Linked DNA regions of Homo sapiens: region 2 is linked to region 1. The links come from fine-mapping of genetic effects on gene expression. A gene starts in region 1. The other region holds a variant in brackets. All regions are shown on one strand. Distances are from middle to middle. Region 1 holds the start of CRKL (CRK like proto-oncogene, adaptor protein). Region 2 has its middle 84 kb from the start of SERPIND1.

Evidence for each region. PIP is the estimated chance that this variant, and not a neighbour inherited with it, causes the effect.
Region 2: its variant is the best candidate, but not a certain one, in a credible set for the expression of CRKL in whole blood (INTERVAL, PIP 0.81).

What each region holds. Positions count from the first base shown.
Region 1 is chr22:20,915,105-20,920,472 of GRCh38, forward strand. CRKL (CRK like proto-oncogene, adaptor protein) reads left to right here and starts at 2,303. Exons shown (of 3, transcript NM_005207.4): 1 at 2,303-3,141. The coding sequence starts at 2,831. RefSeq lists a silencer at 2,220-2,669 and an enhancer at 2,960-3,019.
Region 2 is chr22:20,687,513-20,692,880 of GRCh38, forward strand. It overlaps the pseudogene POM121L4P. Among named protein-coding and RNA genes, the nearest start is that of SERPIND1, 84 kb to the right of the region's middle. The variant T/C (reference allele first, on the strand shown) is at 3,212.

The DNA.
Region 1 (5,368 bases):
TAGGATTACAGGCGGTGGCTCACGCCTGTAATCCCAGCACTTTGGGAGGCTGAGGCAGGAGGATCATGAGGTCAGGAGTTCAAGACCAGCCTGGCGAACATGGTGAAACCCTGTCTCTACTAAAAATACAAAAATTAGCTGGGCATGGTGGTGCATGCCTGTAATCAATCCCACCTACTTGGCAGGCTGAGGCAGGAGAATTGCTTGAACCTGGACCTGGGAGGCAGAGGTTGCAGTGAGCTGAGATCACGCCACTGCACTCCTCCAGCCTGGGCTACAGAGCTAGAGTCCGTATCAGAATAAAAAAAAAAAAAAAGGGCTGGGCAAGGAGCAGGTGATTATGAAGTGGTAAATCTGACAGTGAAAAGTAGTTAGAAAACAAAGTGGAGATTTTTCTCTCCACCCTCACCCACCCACTGAGGGTGTATGCTCAGGGTTTTAGGGTATAGAGGTAGAGGCCCAGGGAATGACTGAATAATAATAATGGAAGACTCATATGATGCTTACTATGTGCCAGGTACTATTCTAAGCACTTTGCATATATTAACTTGTTTCATACATAGCTGGGCGGGGTGGCTCACATCTTGGCTGAGGGGGAGGATTGTTTGAGCTCAAAAGTCTGAGACGAGCCTGGGCAACATGGTGAGATTTCGTCTCTATTAAAAATCAAAGGCCGGGCGCGGTGGCTCACGCCTGTAATCCCAGCACTTTGGGAGGCCGAGGCGGGCGGATCACGAGGTCAGGAGATCGAGACCATCCCGGCTAAAACGGTGAAACCCCGTCTCTACTAAAAATACAAAAAATTAGCCGGGCGTAGTGGCGGGCGCCTGTAGTCCCAGCTACTTGGGAGGCTGAGGCAGGAGAATGGCGTGAACCCGGGAGGCGGAGCTTGCAGTGAGCCGAGATCCCGCCACTGCACTCCAGCCTGGGCGACAGAGCGAGACTCCGTCTCAAAAAAAAAAAAAAAAAAAAAAAAATCAAAAAAATTAGCTGGGCATGGCAGCGCGAGCCTGTAGTCCCAACTACTCGGAAGGCTGAGGTGGGAGGATCCCTTGAGATGGGGAAATCAAGGCTGCAGTGAGCCATGATAGTTCCACTGCACTCCAGCCTGGGTGACAGAAGGAGAACCTGTCTCAAAAACAAACAAAATAAAACAAACAGGCTGGGCACGGTGGCTCACGCCTGTAATCCTAGCACTTTGGGAAGCTGAGGCAGGCAGATCACCTGAGGTCAGGAGTTTGAGACCAGCCTGGCCAACATGGTGAAACCCCGTTTCTACTAAAAATACAAAAATTAGCAGGGCATGGCGGCGGACAGCTGTAATCCCAGCTACTCGGGAGGCTGAGGCAGGAGAATCGCTTGAACCCGGGAGGCGGAGGTTGCAGTGAGCCGAGATCGCGCCCCTGCACTCCAACCTGGTGACAGAGCGAGACTCCGTCGAAAGAAGGAAAGGAAAGGGAAAGGGAAAGGAAAGGGAAAGGGAAAGGAAAGGAAGAGAGAGAGAGAGAGAAAGAAAAGAAAAGAAAAAAGAAAAGAAAGAAAGAAAGAAAGAAAGAAAGAAAGAAAGAAAGAAAGAAAGAAAACAAACAAAAACAAATAGGGATTAATAAATAGGCAGAAGCAGGCATAATCCGGGGCAGGGGAAGCCTCGGGGCCACGCCCGAGAGGCATTTGTATTTTACTTTCAGCAGTTCAGAGCCCATGATAGCCAGGTTACCCACTTGTGGACTTCCTTGACCACTTAATTGAGTCAATCTAACCCTCACCTTCTCTCTCCTCTCACTCCATTTAGCGGGTCACGTAGCCACTAGGGCTTCCTTAGCCTATCAGGCCACCTGGGGACTGAGTCATTCAGTCAGTCACCTATCTGGTGGTCACATCTGCCCCTGGGCTCATCCTTTTACTGGGCCACCTCGGCCCATCGGGACCTGTCAGTCCTTGACCTCCCTCAGGCCCCTAGGCTGGCCAGGTCGCCTCAGTGCCACGCCTCCCTGGCCCGCGATTCAGCCTGCACGTTACGCTTTGTTCCCAGAAGCAGGTTTTCGAAACGCGGTTCCCTCTCGGCTCCAGCTGTTTTCCTGCCAGCGCTGGGAGACCCGGCAGCCGCAGCGCCCCCAGCGGCGCGCAGCGGCCCAGGAAGAGAGTGCCTACCGCCGGCGCCTCTTCAGCCTCCTCCTGGAACGCGGGAGCGGGCGCGACCAGCGCCCACCCTGATCGTCGCGACGGTGCTCCTGATTGGCTGCGCTGTGTGACGTAACGGGAGGGCCCCGGCGGCCGCCGGGAGCCGGGGCCCAGCGCGTGCGCAGACGGAGCGCGCTGAGCGGAGGGGGAGGTGGCTGCCGCTTCTCCCGCGTCCGCCATTTTGTTGCTGTGGCTATTGGGAACAAGCTGGGCAAAAGCACCCCGGAGGCGCGACGCTCCTTCGAGTTCGGTGCCTCGTGTGACGGCGGGGGTCGGTGAAGACCCGTCGAGCTGCGGCGCCGGCGCGTTCCAGGCCGGGAGTCACTGGAGGCACCCCTGGGACGCCGAGCAGCCCGAGAACCCCGGGGTGGCCTCCGCTGCGGCTCGGGTTTGCCTGCCCCGACCCCCCGGCTCTGCCGTGCATTCCCGGGCGGCTCTCTCCGTGTGGCGGCCCCGGAGCAGGCGGGCGGCGTCGGAGGATGCTGCGGGCCCGGAGCCGAGAGGAAAGTGCTGGCCCAGCCCTCTGAGCGCTCCTCGAGGTGTGCGAGAGGCCCTTCCTCGGCCCCAAAGCCGTCTGCCGGGCTAAGGCGTGCAGAGCAGGCGAGGACAGCCGCCGCCCCTACCGCCGCAGAGTCCCCGGTCCAACACCATGTCCTCCGCCAGGTTCGACTCCTCGGACCGCTCCGCCTGGTATATGGGGCCGGTGTCTCGCCAGGAGGCGCAGACCCGGCTCCAGGGCCAGCGCCACGGTATGTTCCTCGTCCGCGATTCTTCCACCTGCCCTGGGGACTATGTGCTGTCGGTGTCCGAGAACTCGCGGGTCTCCCACTACATCATCAACTCGCTGCCCAACCGCCGTTTTAAGATCGGGGACCAGGAATTTGACCATTTGCCGGCCCTGCTGGAGTTTTACAAGATCCACTACCTGGACACCACCACCCTCATCGAGCCTGCGCCCAGGTACGCGAGAGCCCTCCCCGACCGCGGAGGAAGGTCGAGAACCGGGTCTGTCGAAGAGTGCTTGTATAGGGGGGTGGGGCGCGCTTGAACCCATATTCCCCGCATTCTGAACCAAATTATTTTCCAGAAGGCCTTCCTAACAGAAAGCTAGTGTCAGGATCTGGGTCACTGGATAAGAGGATGCGTTTTTTTTTTTTCCCTCTCACGAGGCTGTTTCTCAATGTGAAGAGGATGCGTTTTGAATGTTTAACGGTGGTTGCATAGTTAAAATGCACGCTTTTTGCCTTTCGTGACTTTCTCTGGGTGTAATACTGATGCAGGGATTTGTTGGTTTTTCTAAAAACCTCTTTTTTTTTTTTTTTTTTGAGACGGAGTCTCGCTGTGTCGCCAGGCTGGAGTGCAGTGGTGCGATCTCGGCTCACTGCAACCTCCGCCTCCCGGGTTCAAGCGATTCTCCTGCCTTAGCCTCCCGAGTAGCTGGGACTACTGGCTCACGCCACCACACCCAGCTAATTTTTGTATTTTTAGTAGAGACGGTGTTTCACCATGTTGGCCTGGATGGTCTCGATCTCTTGCCCTCGTGATCCGCCTGCCTCGGTCTCCCAAAATGCTGGGATTACAGGCGTGAGCCACCACACCCGGCCAAAAACCGTTTTTAAGCCATAGACTTCTTTGAGAATCTGAAGATAGCCGAGCACTCACCACCCCACCCCCACCCCCACCCCCACCCCTCCCCGCCAAAGGCACGTACACACAAGTTTGCACACCATCCCGGGTGCTTGTACTCCCTCCAGATCTCTGAACTCCAGGTTAAGAACTCCAGGACTGCAGCCTTTGGAACAGTCAAAAAAATGAAAATGCTTTAGCGTTTAGAAACAAAAAAACCTTTAACCAAAATATCAGAACTGTATATTGATACTGTGGTGCCAAGTTTGAAGCAGGCCAGACACCACCACTTTTATAGTACGTTAATTACAAAGATAAGAGAAGGTGCATTGGCTTCAGCGAGGATATTTTTTGGAAAATTTATTGCATATTTTCTCCCCGAGGACCATTAGTAGGCCAGAGATCAGTCTGGTTAATTTCCAAGGTGGAATTAGGCTAGAATGTTATTAAGGAAAATTTTTGAATGACACTTAGTTGTATCCTAGTTCAATTTCAGACATGCTTTTTGTGTTAAGTCTAATGATTTTGTATTTCTTATTTTAAAATTAACGCAAAGTGACCAAGCATTCTCTTTTCCAAGTGAAATACGTTATTTTAATTGATTAGTTGCTTTAATTTGCCTTAAGCGTTTTAGCAGAGATTTGCTTTTATTGTTGTGTTTGCCCTGTAACACTGATTTTATCAGAGGTTTCTTTTATTTAAATTATCCCAAATTTGAGTTGAAAAGTTGCCTAGAATTTTTAAAGTAACAAACTGGCCAGTTCGTTTCTTAAACATCTATTTTAAAAGGACTGGGTGTTGATACAGTTTTTCCAGGGTTAGATGTTTATGACTTTATGGATTTGTCGACCGGGTATTACTCTAAACTTTAAACATTAAAAGCTATTATAATTGAGGACACCAACTGTTTGCATAGTGGGATAGAGATAGAAAAAAAAAAGCCATGACAGTATAATGACTACAAGATTAACTACTGAACTAAATGGACTTTAAAAGTGGGGAGAAAGTGATTATAAATCAAATACTGTATAACAAAGACCAGGACACCAAGAATCTGATTGGTGAAACCTGCGGTTCCTGGCAGATGCTGGTAGTTGCAGTCAACTTTGAGCACAATATAATTCCAATTTAAGGAGTTGAGAATCTTAGAACCCACTGTAGTGAGATTTGTAATATGACTGAATAAATTCTTCCTCTCGTTTGTGAGCGTGAATTATATAATTAATACCAGGCATTCATTAAGCCATGCATATGCTTATGTTGAGGTCATGAGTACTAATAATACAGCTGTTTCAAAAAGCAAGTTAATGGGCGGGTGTGGTAGCTCACGCCAGTAATCCCAGCACTTTGGGAAGCCAAGCCGGGCGAATCACGAGGTCAGGAGTTCAAGACCATCTTGGCCAACATGGTGAAACCCCGTCTCTGCTAAAAATACAAAAAATTAGCTGGGCGTAGTGGTGGGTGCCTGTAATCCCAGCTACTCGGGAGGCTGAGGCAGGAGAATCGCTCGAACCCGGGAGGCGGAGGTTGCAGTGAGCCGAGATCGCGCCACTGCACAGCC
Region 2 (5,368 bases), 230 kb before region 1:
ACACCGCAACCTCCGCCTCCCGGGTTCAAGTGATTCTCCTGCCTCAGCCACACCAGTAGCTGGGACTACAGCCGCGTGCCACCATGTCTGGTTAATTTTTGTATTTTAGTAGAGACAGGGTTTCACTATGTTGGCCAGGCTGGTCTCCAACTCCTGATCTCGTGATCCGCCCGCCCCAATCTCCCAAAGTGCTGGGATGTGTGAGCCGCCACGCCTGGCCACTACTTTTTCTTTTCTTTGTGTGTTTTTTTTTTTTTTTTTTTTTTTTTGGTGTGTGTGTGTGTGAGATGGAGTTTCCCTCTTGTTGCCCAGGCTAGAGTGCAATGGTGCGATCTCAGTTCACTGCAATCCCCGCCTCAGCAGGAGAGCAGGAATCTTCAGTGATCCACTGGCGGATCTGCAGCCATTGTGCGCGCCAGGTCTTCCCAAGTCTTTTGTGCGCGCGCCTCTCCTTCCAGTACCTATCAAGCCAGCGTCCCCTAGCCTCCCGCCATTGCCAGCAGGTGCTGAGATCGCGCCATTGCACTCCAGCCTGGGAGACAACAGCGAAACTCCGTCTCAAAATTAAAAAAAAAAGGATGAAAATTTTGGAAAAATATGGAAGAAACCAAATGGATTTCTAGCTCAACTAAATCGTAATTATTCAGTGTCTAGTTTTTGCAAGAAACCATATATTTCATGTCCACAATCGGCCACAGTCCCAGCTCTCAAGTGTAGGTCTTTCCTAAGCAAATTGAAGAACACAGGCATAAAAGTGCATTAAGTCAATAAACATTTTTCTCTGTGTCTCTCTCTCTCTTTTTTTTTTTTTTTTTTTGAGACGGAGGTTCGCACTGTCACCCAGGCTGGAGTGCAGTGGTGAGATCTCGGGTGACTGCAAGCTCCGCCTCCCGAGTTCACGCCATTCTCCTGCCTCAGCCTCCAGAGTAGCTGGGACTACAGGCGCCCGCCACCACGCCCGGCTAATTTTTTGTAGTTTTAGTAGAGACGGGGTTTCGCTATGTTGGCCAGGCTGGTCTCCAACTCCTGACCTCGTGATCCACCCGCCTCCGCCTCCCAAAGTGCCACAGCCCCGGCCTTTTTTTTTTTAAGACAGAGTCTCGGCCGGGCGCGGTGGCTCACGCCTTTAATCCCAGCACTTTGGGAGGCCGAGGCGGGCGGATCACGAGGTCAGGAGGTCGAGGCCATCCTGGCTAACACGGTGAAACCCCGTCTCTACTAAAAATACAAAAAAGCAGCCGGGTGTGGTGGCGGGCGCCTGTAGTCCGAGCTACTCCCGAGGCTGAGGCAGGAGAATGGCGTGAACCCGGTAGGCGGAGCTTGCGGTGAGCCCAGAGATCAGGCCACTGGAATCCAGCCTGGGCGACAGAGGGAGACTCCGTCTCAAAAAAAAAAAAAGAAAAAAAAAAAAGACTCTGACTCTGTTGCCCAGGTTGGAGTGCAGTGGCGCGATCTCGGCGCATCGCAATCCCTTCCCAGCCCCCGGGTTCAAGTGATTCTCCAGTCTCAGCCGCCGGAGTAGCTGGGACTACAGGCGCGTGCCACCATGTCTGACTAAATTTGTATTTTTACTAGAAAGGGGGTTTCACTATGTTGGCCAGGCTGGTCTCCAACTCCTGATCTCGTGATCCGTCCGCCCCGACCTCCCAAAGTGCTAGGATTATAGGCATAAGCCGCCACGCCCGGCCTTTTGTTTTTCTTTTTCTTTTTTTTATTTGAAGACTGAGTTTTGCACTTGTTGCCCAGGCTGGAGTGCAATGGTGCGATCTCAGCTCACTGCAATCTCCACCTCAGCAGGAGAGCAGGAATCTTCAGTGATCCACGGGCAGATCTGCCGCCATTGTGGGCACCTGTTCCTCCCGCGACCTTTGTGCCCGCCTCTCTCCTTCCAGTACCTATTGCATGACCCCCCACGTCCGCCTCCCGCCATTGCCAGCAAGTGCCTCGCGCGGGTACCTGGCTGCGCTTATTAATCCGTTAAGCTCGCTCTGTCACGGGCGCCGTGATGTGCTCACGCGCCCGCTCCCTCAGGTTTAAAAGGCGCGTTGCCCGGCAACAGAAGAAACTGCTGGCTTAGCCGTTGGCCGAGTTGGCGGCTGGACGAGGACGCTCAGAGCCCAGCTCTCGAGAGTTCAAGCAACCGACGGTTCCCCACTGCTCCCAGGAGCGGTTACCTGGGCACTCTGTGCCCCTCCTTCCTGTTCGGGCCCAGGCCGAGGACCTGCCAGTAGGGCTCAGTTGCCTGGAGCCCGTTCAGCCCATCCCCCAGTTCACTTTGCCTGTGGGATCTCCCCGTTGCTCCTGCCCGTGGACTGAGTGGCAGGCCATCCTACAAGCACCCGGACACTTGACATCCGTGGTGTCAAGACAACTCTAAGAAGGTTTTCCGTGATCCTGCAAGCCCTGCCTTCCTTTCTGGGATCCTGCCTTCAATTTGATTGCACAGGTACCACAGCAAGCCAGTGCTGTGTGCTCCGAGTTCCAGGGCGTCCTCCAGCTCAGCCACTGCACTGAGAACATGGACTCTCTGTGGGGCCCAGGAGCTGGGAGTCACCCCTTTGGGGTCCACAACAGCCGGCTGTCCCCAGACTTGTGTCCAGGGAAGATAGTGTTGAGGGCCCTCAAGGAGAGCGGGGCAGGGATGCCTGAGCAGGACAAGGACCCTAGAGTCCAAGAGAATCCTGGTGATCAGAGAAGGGTCCCCGAGGTCACCGGGGATGCACCGTCTGCATTTCGGCCCCTGCGGGACAATGGAGGCCTCTCTCCCTTTGTGCCCGGGCCCGGGCCTCTGCAGACAGACCTCCATGCCCAGAGGTCAGAAATCAGATATGACCAGTCATCCCAGACCTCCTGGACGAGCTCGTGCACCAACCGAAATGCCATCTCCAGCTCCTACAGCTCCACGGGAGGCTTGCCGGGGCTAAAGCGGAGGAGGGGGCCAGCCTCATCCCACTGCCAGCTGACCCTCAGTTCCTCAAAGACAGTGAGTGAGGACAGGCCTCAGGCTGTCTCTTCGGGTCACACCCAGTGTGAAAAGGTGGCAGAGAAAGCACCAGGGCAGACACTCGCCCTCAGGAATGACTCCTCCAGATCCGAGGCCTCTAGGCCCAGTACACGCAAGTTTCCCCTGCTGCCACACAGGCGAGGGGAGCCTTTGATGCTGCCACCTCCCGTAGAGCTGGGGTACCGGGTCACTGCTGAAGACCTGGAC[T/C]GGGAGAAGGAGGCGGCATTCCAGTGCATCAAGAGTGCACTGCAGGTTGAGGACAAGGCCATCTCAGACTGCAGACCCTCACGGCCTTCCCACACTTTGTCCTCACTTGCAACAGGGGCTTCTGGTCTGCCTGCCGTTTCTAAAGCACCCAGTATGGATGCACAGCAGGAGAGACACAAGTCCCAAGACTGCCTGGGCCTAGTGGCCCCCCTAGCATCTGCTACAGAGGTCCCCTCTACAGCTCCCATGTCTGGGGAGAAGCACAGACCACCAGGCCCCCTGTTCTCCTCCTCAGATCCCCTTCCTGCCACCTCTTCCCACTCCCAGGACTCAGCCCAGGTCACCTCGCTGATTCCTGCCCCCTTCCCAGCTGCAAGCATGGATGCGGGCATGAGAAGAACAAGGCCTGGCACTTCTGCTCCTGCAGCTGCCGCAGCAGCCCCTCCCCCCTCCACATTGAACCGCACATTGGGGTCACTATTGGAGTGGATGGAGGCCCTTCACATTTCTGGGCCTCAGCCACAGCTGCAGCAGGTGCCCAGAGGTCAGAACCAGAGATCCCAGACCTCCCGGACCAGCTCGTGCCCCAAACGAAATGCCATCTCGAGCTCCTGCAGCTCTACGGGAGACCTCCCGGGACGAAAGCGGAAGAGGCGCCAGCCTCATCCCACTGCCAGCTGACCCTCAGTTCCTCAAACACAGTGAGTGAGGACGGACCTGAGGCTGTCTCTTCGGGTCACACCCAGTGTGAAAAGACGGCAGATACAGCACCAGGGCAGACACTCGGCCCCAGGGGTGGCTCCCCCAGATCCCAGTCCTCTAGGCCCCGTAGACACAAGTTTCCCCTGCTGCCACGCAGGCGAGGGGAGCCTTTGATGCTGCCACCTCCCTTAGAGCTGGGGTACTGGGTCACTGCTGAAGACCTGGACCGGGAGAAGGAGGCGGCATTCCAGCGCATCAACAGTGCACTGCAGGTTGAGGACAAGGCCATCTCGGACTGCAGACCCTCACGGCCTTCCCACACTTTGTCCTCACTTGCTACAGGGGCTTCTGGTCTGCCTGCCATTTCTAAAGCACCCAGTATGGATGCACAGCAGGAGAGACACAAGTCCTAAGACTGTCTGGGCCTAGTGGATCCCCCAGCATCTGCTGCACAGGTCTGTAGTCCCAGCTACTCGGGAGGCTGAGGCAGGAGAACGGCATAAACCCGGGAGGCAGAGCTTGCAGTGAGCTGAGATCGCGCGACTGCACTCCAGCCTGGGTGACAGAGCGAGACTCCGTCTCAAAAAAAGAAAAAGAAAAAGAAAAAAAAAGTTCTTGTGACATTTCTGTATGAAATCAGCCTTCACTACATGGATAGGACCAGCACGCTTCCGCGGCACGACTCTGCAATCTTACTACATTTTTTTTATTTTGTATTTTATTTATTCCTTTTGAGACAGTCTTACTCTGTCACCCAGGCTGAAGTGCAGCCGAGATCTCGGCTCACTGCAACCTCCACCTCCTGGGTTCAAGCAATTCTCCTGTCTCAGCCTCCCAAGTAGCTGAGACTACAGGCACACGTCAAAAGGCCCGGCTAATTTTTGTATTTTTAGTAGAGATGGAGTTTAGCCATATTGGTCAGGCTGGTCTCGAACTCCTGACCTCAGGTGATTGACCTGTCTTAGCCTCCCGAAGTGCTAGGATTACAGGTGTAAGTTTATTTATTTATTTAAGATGGAATCTTGCTCTGTATTTATTAATTTATTTATTTGAGATGGAGTCTTGCTCCATCGCCCAGGCTAGGGTGCAGTGGTGCAATCTCGGCTCACTGCAACCTCTGACTTCCAGTTTCAAGCGATTCTCCTGCCTCAGTGTCCCAAGTAGCTGGGATTACAGGTGCCTGCCACCACAGCTGGCTAATTTTTGTATTTTTAGTAGAGACAGTGTTTCACCGTCTTGGCCAGGCTGGTCTCAGGCTCCTGACCTCATGAACCACCTGCCTCAGCCTCCCAAAGTGTTGGGATTACAGGCCTAAGGCACCATGTTCGGCCATATTTATTTATTTAATTATTTAGAGACAAAGTCTTGCTCTGTCACCCAGGCTGGAGTGCAGTGGCGCCATCTCAGCTCACTGCAGCCTCTGCCTCCAAGGTTTAAGCGATTCTCATGCCTCAG